Regions from separate parts of the Homo sapiens genome. Here regions 2 and 3 are each linked to region 1. The links come from fine-mapping of genetic effects on gene expression. A gene starts in region 1. Each other region holds a variant in brackets. All regions are shown on one strand. Distances are between the middles of the regions.

Region 1 (4,354 bases):
GTTATCTGCAAGTGTAGGAATAATAACAGGGTTCATATGAGAATCAAATATATGAAAAGACATGGAAGCTTGTTTAATTCCTGAGTTATCTGCAAGTGTAGGGATAATAACAGTTATTGAAGTCCATGTGCTAGTCACTTTTGAAGAAATTTACACTAATTTAAGTAACTCTCTCAGCAGCCCAGCCACACAACTACTATCTTGATTGCGTAGGTAAGAAACTGAGGCTTACGGAGTTGGGATTTGAACAAAGGTAATTGGACTTCAGAGCATGTATTTTAACCACTATTCTACAATATTACAAGCCCTTGAAGATTCTCTTATTAACTAGCTGTTCCAAGAAACTTAACATACTTCATGATATGTGCACAGATTTGCGTTTACCAAGCATCTGAGCCGAGTTTCTCCAGGGATCTGAGAGATGGGTGGCCAGCAGAGTCAAGGTCCCAAATCAGCAGACCTGAAGTTACATTTCTGTAGCAAAAAATAAGTGTATTTATGCTACAAGGGCAGGGGCAAGGGTCGACACTCAGCTCTCTCTCCTTGGTGCCCGAAGGAAGCTTAACTAAAACCTACATGATCATAAGGGCGGAGGAGAGTCTCTGAAGTATCATTATTGACATGCCCTGGGTGTGAGAGGTATGCTATCAACACTTAAACCTGCCTTCCTACTCGGTGTGACCCACGGAATTAACATCATACAGGGTATGGATTGGGCAAACAGGCATTTGTTCGTTAAACCCTCTCACACCAGTGCTCTGGGTGACCTCCTGAAGCTGGAAAAAGTACAATTAGGTGTATTAATTGTACGATTAACAAATTGTAAGTGACTTTCTGTTACTCGATATTGTTGGAGATTGGGTTGTGTGTGCTACTCAGTGTTTTGGATCAGCGAGTTGCCTTGTGCAGGGCACATTCTGATGTATTATCGATTACTATAGCCTTCCCTTTCAGCACACCTTTCTCTTCTCCTCTCTGACTTTCTCTGTGTCAGGCACACCCAGCTCTCTGACTGCACTAGCCCATCTGAGCCCTTTGTAAAGTCATCCATAAGCTGATATTTATTGAGTGCCTACGTGTGCCAGGCAGTGTTTTGAAACCAGAGACAAAGATTAGGTACCTCTTCTTGGGAAGCTCAAGTTAATTCAAATGTGCTTAATCGGTTCTCTCAGGGGAATATGCATTCAGAGACATCAAGTCTGGGTACACCTGGGAAAGGGTACGGTTGGAGGGAGCTGTTCCTACAGAGATCTTCATGTACCAACACAGAGGCAACCACCTACTTTGCTTACCCTGAAAGGTGGTGTTGCTCCCACACTGAGTACCAATATGAAAGCATACAATACAGGTACAGTTATTTGTTATGCAGGCTGTCTTGGAACTAGATGATGTTTCAAATGGCACTTCCCAAATCTGCCAGAGCCTCTTACCCTCTTACGCCTGTTATGATTTCTAGAATGTGCTGAAATGATCCCCAAACAGCATCTCTGGCTAATTGAATCCTGGCTAACAAAGAGCTGACTAAAGTGCATTTATCAATTGCTTAAGAATTCTTTATACCCAAATGTGACCTTGTGTTATAACTATCTATCATTGGCTTTAGAAAGTGGCAGGGTCATGGATCCATAAAAAGCTGTTAAGAAAAAACCAGACCACTTGGAAAGGCTGTCCCAGATCTCTCCAGACCAGTATCCAGGGGCCAGAACTTCTCTGCCCCCCATCCAGTCCAACACTGAATTGCAGAACCACCCTGGGTATGACCCAGGAAGAGACTTCTTAGAAGGCTTTCATCAGATACCTATCTAGAGGCAAAGTGCAGGCTAGATGGGTATGGGCAAGAGAAGAGCAGAGACAGCATAACTGTGAAATCCACCCCCGACCTGACCACCCTACATAGTAACCCTGCCAGTTGGTTCTTGCCTACTCATCCTAATGCCACCCAAAGTCTCTTACCCCCAGAACGCTGATTTATTGGTTTTGAGTTCGTGTTAGTAGCTTAAACTGTCTCCTTGATTTCTCTGTATTTGTTTATTTGTTCGCTTGGTTACTTGCTGTCTCCCACCCCTACCCCGAAAAAACCTATCAGCTCTACACAGCCTTAAAGTGTAGTTGCTAAGTTCCTCTCCGTATCCTCAGTTTCCAGAACAGTGTGAGCTGGCATATAGTAGGCGCTTAATAAATACTCATTGAAGGAGTGAATGAATGGGGAAGCTTATTCCAAGGCCCTGAACATGGACTTCTGGCAAGGGAGCCTTCCAAACGCTGGCTTGGGCGATGCTGCTGGGATCCCAGCCACCAGATCTTTAATAAGCCTCTGACCCCTTCCCGAGGGTGGAAGGGCGAACCGAGCTTGGCCCCCACCCACTAGCCGGACCCAGAAAATAGAAGTCTAAACGGCAAATGCATCCAGGGCTCCAACTCTCCCAGCAACCTCCAAATGAGGCTGACGGCCTTGGACAGGCGACGGCCTTGGACAGGCCCCGCCCGGAGCCCCTCGGCGGCCGCCCCCCGCCCTCCCCCGCAGCCTGCAGTTCCCCCGGGCGGCGTGGACAGCCCCGGCCGGCCAGCTGAGCCCGTGTGGGCGGCGCGGGCAGGAGCCGCCCCACACGCGTCCCGCGACGCCCGCTCCAGATGCGCCGCTGCAGGGCCCGGCCGCCAGCCGAGTTGGCCGCGCGCGCCCGGGGGAGCGCAGAGTTTGGAAAGTCTTCGAGAAGCTTCAGAGGAGGGAAGGGGGTGGGAAGAGTGGGGGTGCAAGAGAGAAAAACCCGCCTCTTGCGAGTTGAGCGAGGAAGAGGGGGGGGAAGGCTCCGAGTTCCGCTTCCTGAACGGCGGGTGGATAGAGAAGGTTGGCGCGGGGAAGACCGGCGGGAGGCGCGCCCCGGGCCCGCGGCGCGATTGGCGTGACCGGCGATGGCCGGTGAGCGGACCCGCAGGTTCACCCGGAGCCTGTTGAGACCTGGGCAGGCGGCCGAGCTCCGGCACAGCGCCGCGTCCGCCGCCGCGGTGGCAGTCAGCAGCCGGCAGCAGCAGCGGGTGAGTGCGGCGCGTCCTCCGCGCCTTCCCGCGCGCCCCAGGCGCCCGGGGGGAACGGAGCCCAGCTTCCCCAAAAGCTCGGCGGGCCCAGGTCCCCGCAGCTCACGGGTCCTCTCCTCCGCACTCCCTCCCCCGCCGCCTCTGCGGGCTCCCCCGGCGCCACCTCAGCGAGGCAGCGCCACCGACGCGTAAGGACCGGGGGCGCGTTTGTGCACGCGGGACGCTCAGAGGAGCAGCTGCGTGGGTAGCAGAAGCGCAGCGTGGGAGAGGATGTGCAGGGGCTTTAATGGGGCGCGAGGGGGCCGGAATGCACCGCCAGTCACACTGGTGCTAAGTGATACGAGTGCCAGAGACCCCGGGTGGGGTGGGGGGATCTACAGAACAGAACCCCTGAGTCCGGAGGTCTGCGCGTCCCTCTCACCCTCCAGTAAACAGACCAGTGCGCTGAGAGAGAGGGATGCAGTCCGTGGTCCTCGCCCTGGTTAGAGCTGGGGCCCCCCGACGTTAACTATCGCAGAAATAGATGTACTTGGAACAGCCCTCCCACCGCAGGGTAAAAACCCACAAACCACTTAATACTCCTCCAGAAAGGGCTGAGGAACACAGGCTGGAGGAGACGTGGGTCATTAGGTCTCCAGCGGTTTCTGATATTTTTCTAAGATGTTTCGCGGGGTTCTCCCACCAGCAATGCTTTACTGGTTACTTCCTTATTGAAACGGCTTCTAAGTGCTGGGTGATTTCCGCGGGAAGTCCCTGGGGCAGCAGCCAGCATCTGATGCTAGGATCCTATCCATACCAACCCAGATGTTCCTGCGTTGCAGTAGGTCCACACTGCCGGGGAGAGGTGGCAAGAGACAAATCAACTCTAGTGGAAACGGGAAGCGAGTGGGAACAACAGCCTCACAGCAAGACCGGGGCTCAGCAGCCGCGCTCTTGGCCTGCGTTTGGTGGACCGGAATCCGGGTTGTGTGTTTCATTTTCTTTTTTGCCAGAAAATATCATTAGGAACTAAACGGCTCTTTTTAAGAGTGTGAAAGTGTTACTCTTGCCAGTCACCAATGAGGAGGGCGCCAAAAGCTTCCCAGAGCCAGTTCCCACAGCCAGGACTATTCTCTAAAGCCAGAGGTCGGAAAGTTGAACAGAACGGAAGCAAATTGCCTGGCAGAGGGAAGAGGCATCGGGTGCCCAGGGGGTGTAGAGCGGGCGGGGGTGATTGGAGTGTGAAACGAATTGGTGGCCAGGGTGCCTTCTCTTGCACTTACACTAGCTGCAGTCCGCAGTTACCCAGAGGTGGTTCAACTGTTAGCTCACTCTGTGCCAG
Region 2 (4,000 bases), 230 kb after region 1:
CCTTACACCTTATACAAAAATCAATTCAAGATGGATTAAAGACTTACATGTTAGACCTGAAACCATAAAAACCCTAGAAGAAAACCTAGGCATTACCATTCAGGACATAGGCATGGGCAAGGACTTCATGTCTAAAACACCAAAAGCAATGGCAACAAAAGCCAAAATTGACAAATGGGATCTAATTAAACTAAAGAGCTTCTGCACAGCAAAAGAAACTACCATCAGAGTCAACAGGCAACCTACAAAATGGGAGAAAATTTTCACAACCTACTCATTTGACAAAGGGCTAATATCCAGAATCTACAATGAACTCAAACAAATTTACAAGAAAAAAACAAACAACCCCATCAAAAAGTGGGCAAAGCATATGAACAGACACTTCTCAAAAGAAGACATTTATGCAGCCAAAAAACACACGAAAAAATGCTCATCGTCACTGGCCATCAGAGAAATGCAGATCAAAACCACAATGAGATATCATCTCACACCAGCTAGAATGGCGATCATTAAAAAGTCAGGAAACAACAGGTGCTGGAGAGGATGTGGAGAAACAGGAACACTTTTACACTGTTGGTGGGAGTGTAAACTAGTTCAACCATTGTGGAAGTCAGTGTGGCGATTCCTCAGGGATCTCGAACTAGAAATACCATTTGACCCAGCCATCCCATTACTGGGTATATACCCAAAGGATTATAAATCATGCTGCTGTAAAGACACATGCACACGTATGTTTATTGCGGCACTATTCACAATAGCAAAGACTTGGAGCCAACCCAAATGTCCAACAATGATAGACTGGATTAAGAAAATGTGGCACATATACACCATGGAATACAATGCAGCCATAAAAAATGATGAGTTCACGTCCTTTGTAGGGACATGGATGAAACTGGAAACCATCATTCTCAGCAAACTATCGCAAGGACAAAAAACCAAACACTGCATGTTCTCACTCATAGGTGGAAATTGAACAATGAGAACACATGGACACAGGAAGGGGAACATCACACTCTGGGGACTGTTGTGGGGTGGGGGGAGGGGGGAGGGATAGCATTAGGAGATAAACCTAATGCTAAATGACGAGTTAATGGGTGCAGCACACCAACATGGCACATGTATACATATGTAACAAACCTGCACATTGTGCACATGTACCCTAAAACTTAAAGTATAATAATAATAAAATTTAAAAAAAGAAAAAAATAGATTTCAAATATACAATATTGTATTATTAACGATTCTTACTATGCTACGTATTTGACCTCCACAATTTATTCATCTTATAACTGAAAGTTTGTACCCTTTGACTAAAATCCACCTCCCATTTCTCCCATTCCCCAGCCCATGGCAGCCATCTTTCTACTCTGTGCTTCTATGAGGTTAACTTCTTTAATTTTTTTGCAGAAACTTAGAGGGGTACAAGTGTAATTTTGTTACATGCATAGATTGCATAGTGGTGAAGTTAAGGCTTTTAGGATATCCATCATCCAAATAATGTACATCGTACCTATCAAGTATTCTCTTATTGTCCACCAGAGTTTGATTTCTTTAGATTCCACATATTAACTGAGATCATGCAGTATTTGTCCTTCTGTGTTTGGCTTATTTCACTTAGCATAATGACTCTTAGGTTCACCTGTATTGTCACAAATGGTAGGATTTCTTTTTTTTTTTTTTTTTTT[G/TG]AGGCTGAATAATACTCCATCGTATGTATATACCATTTTTAATCCATTCATCTATAGATGGTCACCTAGGTTTCCATAGCTTAGCTATTGTGAATAATGCTGCAATGTATCTCTTCAACATAATGATCTGAATTCTTTTGGATGTATACCCAGAAGTTGGATTGCTAGATCATATGGTAGCTCTATTTTTACTTTTTTGAGGACCTTCTATACTGTTTCCTATAATGACCGTATTCCACCAACAGTGTACAAGGATTCCCTTTTCTTTACACCAATACTTGTTCTCATTTGACTTTCTGATAATAGCCATCCTAAAAACTATGAGGTAATAGTGCATTGTGGTTTTGATTTGCATTTCCCTGATGATCCGTGATATTGAACACTTTTTCTATATCTTTTGGCCATTTGTATGTCTTCTTTCAAAAAATGTCTATTCAGATCCTTTGCCCATTTTTAAAACTTGGCGGGTTGTTTTTGTTTGTTTGTTTGTTGCTATTATGTTGTATGAGTTCCTTGTAGAGTTTGGATATCAGCCCCCTGTCAGGTATATGGTTTGCAAGCATTTTCTCCCAATCTGTAGTTTGCTTTTTCATTTTGTTGATTGCTTCCTTTGCTGTCCAGAAACTTTTAAATTTGATATAATCCTACTTGTTTATTTTTGCTTTTATTGACTGTGTTTTTGGGGTGATATTCATAAAATCATTGTGAATGCCACTGTCAAAGAGCTTTCTCCCTATGTTTTCTTGTACGTGCAAGTACTACTATTAATGGTTACATTTTAAAAACCCTTTGGACAATTTGAATAAATCCATTATTACTGGAAATTTTTAACATTCTTTTCTCTGTAATTCAGGCTCAAAATTTGGCAGGGCCTTTTCTCTATAATTCAGGCTCAAAATTTGGCAGTGTCTTTTCTCTATAATTCAGGCTCAAAATTTGGCAGTGTCTTTTCCCTATAATTCAGGCTCAAAATTTGGCAGTGCCATTTCTCTCTCCTTGCTCCCTCAAATACTTCAGTCAACTTTTCCTAGTGAGTTACTCTTGTCACTCAGTTTCTGCTACCCCAGCCCAGATATCACGTTGTCACTTGCCCCCTCCCTCCCCCATTGCTACAATGTCCTGTATTGTATCCCTCACCCCACATCTCCCCACAGTCTAATTCATTTACACCCTGCCACACCATATTAATAAGTCAGTAAAGCATGAGCCTTATCAGGGCACTGATCTCAAAGCTATCGGTGTGTTAACATTCCTTACAGAATTAAATACAAATGGAGAGGGACCTAGATGGCAGCTAAGGAAATTGTACTGTTCTCCATCATCTAGCCCCAGCCTCTCAAGCCTAATTCTCTCACCATTCCTCTTTTAGCCACTGTGCTTATTGACTCCCACATACTCGTGCTCCCCTCCATACCTGCTCCCTTCCACACCTGCGCTTTCAGAATTCTGTGCCATCGAAAATCCAATCGCTTCTCCCAGCCTCCTGTCCTTTCTCCATTGCCTCTGTCTGTTCCCACAAAGATCTGCACCTCCAAACTTCAAGTATCCTCAAAGACTCATCTTGATGGATTCCTACTTATAACATATCCTGATTCCTCCAAGCAGAAAATGTGTTTTTCCCCCTCTCAAATCCTGTAATCCTGTAAATATGCTGTTATTATGGAATTCAAAAGTTGATGTTGTGTGTTAGTTTGTACCTGTATTTGTGTTTGTCTACACAGAATAGTCCCCTTACTGAATGCTCCTTGAGGATACAACACACCTCATTTCTGTAGCAAGACTGTATTCCTGAATCCCTCCTAGTGGTGGAAGAAGTTGATGGTAGTTGTTTGGTATATCTGTCTCAATTATAAAGTGATCATTTGATTTTCAATAACATGAGTTATTTTCCTTCCTCACAAAGATATGCCTGAATATTCAGTCACAAATGAATTTTGTCGCAAACACTTCTTAATCGGAATTCTGCTCCGAGAAGTTGGCTTTGCCCTGCAGGAAGACCAAGATGTCAGACACTTAGCTTTAGCTGTCCTAAAAAATCTAATGGCTAAGCATTCATTTGATGATCGATACAGAGAGCCAGTAAGTGATCTTCCTTTCTCCCTTCCCTAAACACCATTTAATGGCTCACTGCATTAAATGCATATGAAACCGACAAGCCTATTGATTTTTACATGAATCATTTCTTTTGGCTACCTTTTCTCCTAGAGAAAGCAGGCCCAGATAGCAAGTTTATACATGCCCCTGTACGGCATGCTCCTGGACAATATGCCAAGGATTTATCTGAAGGACCTGTATCCTTTTACTGTCAATACATC
Region 3 (4,354 bases), 280 kb after region 1:
AAAACATAGAAGTTGTCTACATACTTCTTTAATCCCAGGGTTAGTTTTAAAAACTACATGAGGCCGGGTGCAGTGGCTCACACCTGTAATCCTAGCACTTTGGGAGGCCGAGGTGGGCAGATTGCCTGAGGTCAGGAGTTCGAGACCAGCCTGGCCAACATGGTGAAGTCCCATCTCTACTAAAAATACAAAAATTAGCTGGCTGTAATGGCAGGTGCCTGTAATCCCAGCTATTTGGGAGGCTGAGGCAGGAGAGTTGCTTGAATCCAGGAGGCGGAGGTTGCAGTGAGCTGATATCATGCCACTGCACTCCAACCTGGGTGACAAAGTGAGATTCCGTCTAAAAAAAAAACTACATGATTGCTGTTTTTTCAGATTATATCAGTGCTCCAAAGTGATCCCAGCCTACATTCAGGAATGGGTAAAGGCCCCATGATTAAAACTAAAAAATGTAGTTATGTTCGTCCTTCTGCTGTTTCAGCTACATATGCAATTCACTCCAAAAGTGTCTAGAAAAGTATTAGCTAGAGGAGTATTTTGAAGACATCTAGTTAATGAAGGAACCTTCAGTATAAGGAACGAGACAAGACAAGATAAAGTGGATGCTACTGTGTAAAATGGAGATGTTGAGGTAAAGTAGTTTGAGTTGTCACTGACCAGCAGGCAATAATTGCTTTTATAGGTGCCAAAATTCCATACTGTTTATAATAAATAGCAAAAAACATAAAAGCCTTCTTTGAAGCCAAAGTAATGCATATAAGCATTCAGTTTAAGCATCAGTATAAGATGCCCATTTGGAGTCTGTTTCAACATTCAGTAAGAATAACAGCATAGTGAAGTCAACTGTGATGATGGGTATCCAATACAAAATGCAGAGAAAGGAATGGACCCAATCTGGTGTGATACCAAGCATAGGTATACTGCACCTGGAGTCTACTCTTTGAACACATCATCAGCCAGATTATTCAGAGCTTTGTGATATTGATCATAAGGAGAATTTATTGGTAGTATAGGATGCTCTCAGCTGAGTGCTCTTTGGGGCACTTACAGAAGTAGCGATTCTATCTTGGAAGAGTAGAGATGAAGGTCATGGCACAGTGGGATAATGTGTGAAGTTAGTGGGAAAATCTTCACAATTCTTTGTACAGAAATCTCTTCTGTACAAAAATATATTTTAAAAGTGTCTGGAGTTTCTGTTGTTATTATGCTTACACGTCATTGTTTGAATCAATCTGATAAAGTATTTTTTAGGCACACTAACATTATTTTCAAGATTAAAATCAGGTCAAGACTTTTTTACTATATTTCCTTTTATGCAAACATTTAAATAAAATTTCTAATGTTTCCCTTTTTTGGCAGATGCTGACAATATAAATTATAAACTTTTAGAATAGAATAAAATCCTGGAATTACTCAGATATATTTGTAAGTTTCATCCAAACATTTATAAATTTATGTCAGATAGCAGAAGAGGATTGTGAAAATATTTTAACTTTCACCAAAAGTTAAAGCTAGCACGTGGTCTTGGGGGAAAATTCTTTAGATCCACTTTAATATGTGTCTTTTTATAATTTGAATAAATTACCCTGTGGGGAATGAAAACCTCTATTCTGGGTTTTAATTTTGTGTTTGGGATATTAACATTAACCTCTGCATTCTGTTGTGTTGTGTTTTTCCCTGTTTTAAGATTACGGGCAGGGACGACCTGTCAAAGCGCGGAGTGGACCAAACCTGCACTCGAGTAATTAGCAAAGCAACTCCGGCCCTACCCACGGTCTCCATCTCATCTAGTGCTGAAGTCTGAGGGCTCTGCAGCATCAGACCCACCTCTAAGAGAACTTTCTGAATTTGCAGCTAATCTCGGGGAAGAGAAAGATAGGTTTAATTTAT[T/C]TGAAGTTTTCATGGTGTTAATATTTTTGTTTACCTCGCTAGCTTCAGAATTTTGCCAACCTCTGAATTTGCACATTTTGTATAATTTTTTTTTCTTTGAGCAGTGTTGATCAAGCCAGGTTGAATATTTGCCATGAAATTCCAGTGAATGTGTAGCTCAAATGCAAACCCTAAGTTTGCTGTCAGTTATTGTATGGTCAGTACCCCAGTCCTAGTACACATATTTTAAAGGTTAAAGTGAATGTTTTTGTAACATTTAAGCATATTTCAGATGTAAATAAAAGATTGTAAAATATACGGTTTTTACCAAATTTAAAAGATCCTTTTTAGTTAATACTATGACAGTACTAAAAATATATGAATAACATTTCAGATACCATTATATTAAAATATTTGTGTATGTGTACAAAAGCGTTGATAAATACTAATCTTTAAAGTTTGTGGAGTTCCTTTATTTGTAATATATGTGCTCTTAAAAGCAATGGGATGTGAAATTATGAAAGTATTTTATTGTTCATAGAAATAAAAAACACAGTTACTTTGCATTTGGTTTCCTGTTGAAGAGTGGGTGAGTTACTGAGAAAAATGGTTCATTGAATATCTTCTGAATGCAAATCTATACTCAATACTTAGGATGCCTTGCCAAGAAACCAACAAAGGACTCAAATCTCAGCTAAGAAGTTCCTCCAAAGATGAACTGGGTAGATCAGAGGTTTCCAAATGTAGGAGAGACTTAGAATGACTTGGGGAAAATCTAATGAATCCGAATCTTGAGGTCTGTGGAGGTTCTCAGAGAGATCACAAATGTTCCATTTCTCTGCTCTAATCTTGTGGTAGGATTGCAGTTTCCTGCCTCTTTTGAAGGCAAGCATGACCATGTGACTTGCTATAACCACTGAAATGTAGGCAGAAGTAACATGTGTTACTTTCAGGCAGAGGCTTCAAAGCCAGTAAGTAGTTCTTCCCAGCCTCTTCCCCTGATGTACTTATCTTTGATGTACCTGAAGCCCTGATTTACTTACCTTTGACATATTGTTTCAGCCTCAGTACCCAGGAAACTACAATGAGCAAGACACACACACACACACTCCCTGCTAACGCTATTGGTCATATAGTCTTGAGTGAGAAATACCATTTTGCTGTGTTACGATTCAGGATTGTTTGCTACCACCATGTTATGAGCTTATCAGAGCAATGACCGATAGGTGCTGACCTACGTTTGGGAACCACTGACATTTTCCACTCTCTGGCCCACTTCCCTCCCCTAGTGAATACTGGCTGCCATGGACCCGAACTGAGCTGCTTCTAGGTGCAGAAGGCAAGCTAGAGAATCTAATTTCATACTCACCTTCAGCAGCCATTCCAAAGCCCCAGACATAAAAAAGGAGACTTCAGCTGAGCTCATCTTTCTGCTATGCAAGGCCATTGGCCATGTCAGTACATGATGGTGAGGAGGGAGGTAAGGGGTTGGAATACGTATTTACATTTTGAGTACACAGAAGGGATAGAAAGATATTTTGGGTGAGAACTCGGATCCCTCAAGACACTTTTTTTTTTTTTGAGACAGAGTCTCACTCTGTTGCCCAGGCTGGAGTGCAGTGCGCGATCTCGGCTCCCTGCAGCCTCCACCTCCCGGGTTCAAGTGATTCTCCTGTCTCAGCCTCCCGAGTAGCTGGGATTACTGGCACGCACCACCATGCCTGGCTAATTTTTGTATTTTTAGTAGAGACGGGGTTTCACCATGTTGGCCAGGATGGTCTCGATCTCCTGACCTCGTGATCTGCCTGCCTCAGCCTCCCAAAGTGCTGGGATTACAGGCATGAGCCACCACGCCTGGCCTCAAGACACATTTAACTATTCTTTTCTCAAATAGAGCTCACTTCTTTATAGAAAAGATTGCCCTTTGATGAGCTCTGGCCCAAAGCATTATTCCCAGCTTCATTCTGCCTCCAGTTCTCTTGGTTCCTGACTGTCTGGGTCAGCATCTCAGGTCTTTTCTTTTAATTTCCCCATGTGTAGCTTTAGGCCACCTTAGACATTACTATTCCAGGCACCCAGGAAGATGCTGCCTCCAATATCATCTCCCACCTAACTTCCACCTGTAGGCTCAAGTCCTCTTGCCCATGCCAATCCACCCATCTCCCATGCCCCCAGGACACGGTTGGCAATGGGTTACCTCCAAATCTGAAAATAAATCTTCCAAAAAAACTCTAAGGAAGTAATTGAAAATAATAGATCTTTGTGCTTGTGTTAGGTGCCAAATATTCTATTTTTGCATCACAAACCACAATATCTTTGATCATGTCACCGTTTTGCCCCTGACACTGTTCATAGAACAAGAAGTTTAAATACAGCTTCTCTAAAGAGAATCACCTAAGACCACTCTGCCTTAACAGCGTTGAAACTCACCCTGCACAATCCCAACACCTTTTATTTCTTCCTTTCTCTAGACCAGACACATCAG

What was found.
Region 2: its variant is fine-mapped to the expression of DOCK10 in whole blood (INTERVAL, PIP above 0.99).
Region 3: its variant is fine-mapped to the expression of DOCK10 in whole blood (TOPMed, PIP above 0.99).

What each region holds. Positions count from the first base shown.
Region 1 is chr2:225,040,931-225,045,284 of GRCh38, reverse strand. It overlaps DOCK10 (dedicator of cytokinesis 10), which reads left to right and starts at 2,817. Exons shown (of 56, transcript NM_014689.3): 1 at 2,817-3,033. The coding sequence starts at 2,911. RefSeq lists silencers at 2,421-2,790, 2,981-3,220 and an enhancer at 3,771-4,110.
Region 2 is chr2:224,807,675-224,811,674 of GRCh38, reverse strand. DOCK10 (dedicator of cytokinesis 10) reads left to right here. Exons shown (of 56, transcript NM_014689.3): 32 at 3,589-3,764; 33 at 3,891-4,000. Among named protein-coding and RNA genes, the nearest start is that of CCDC195, 93 kb to the right of the region's middle. The variant G/TG (reference allele first, on the strand shown) is at 1,686.
Region 3 is chr2:224,763,171-224,767,524 of GRCh38, reverse strand. DOCK10 (dedicator of cytokinesis 10) reads left to right here. Exons shown (of 56, transcript NM_014689.3): 56 at 1,688-2,435. The coding sequence ends at 1,804. Among named protein-coding and RNA genes, the nearest start is that of CCDC195, 49 kb to the right of the region's middle. The variant T/C (reference allele first, on the strand shown) is at 1,891.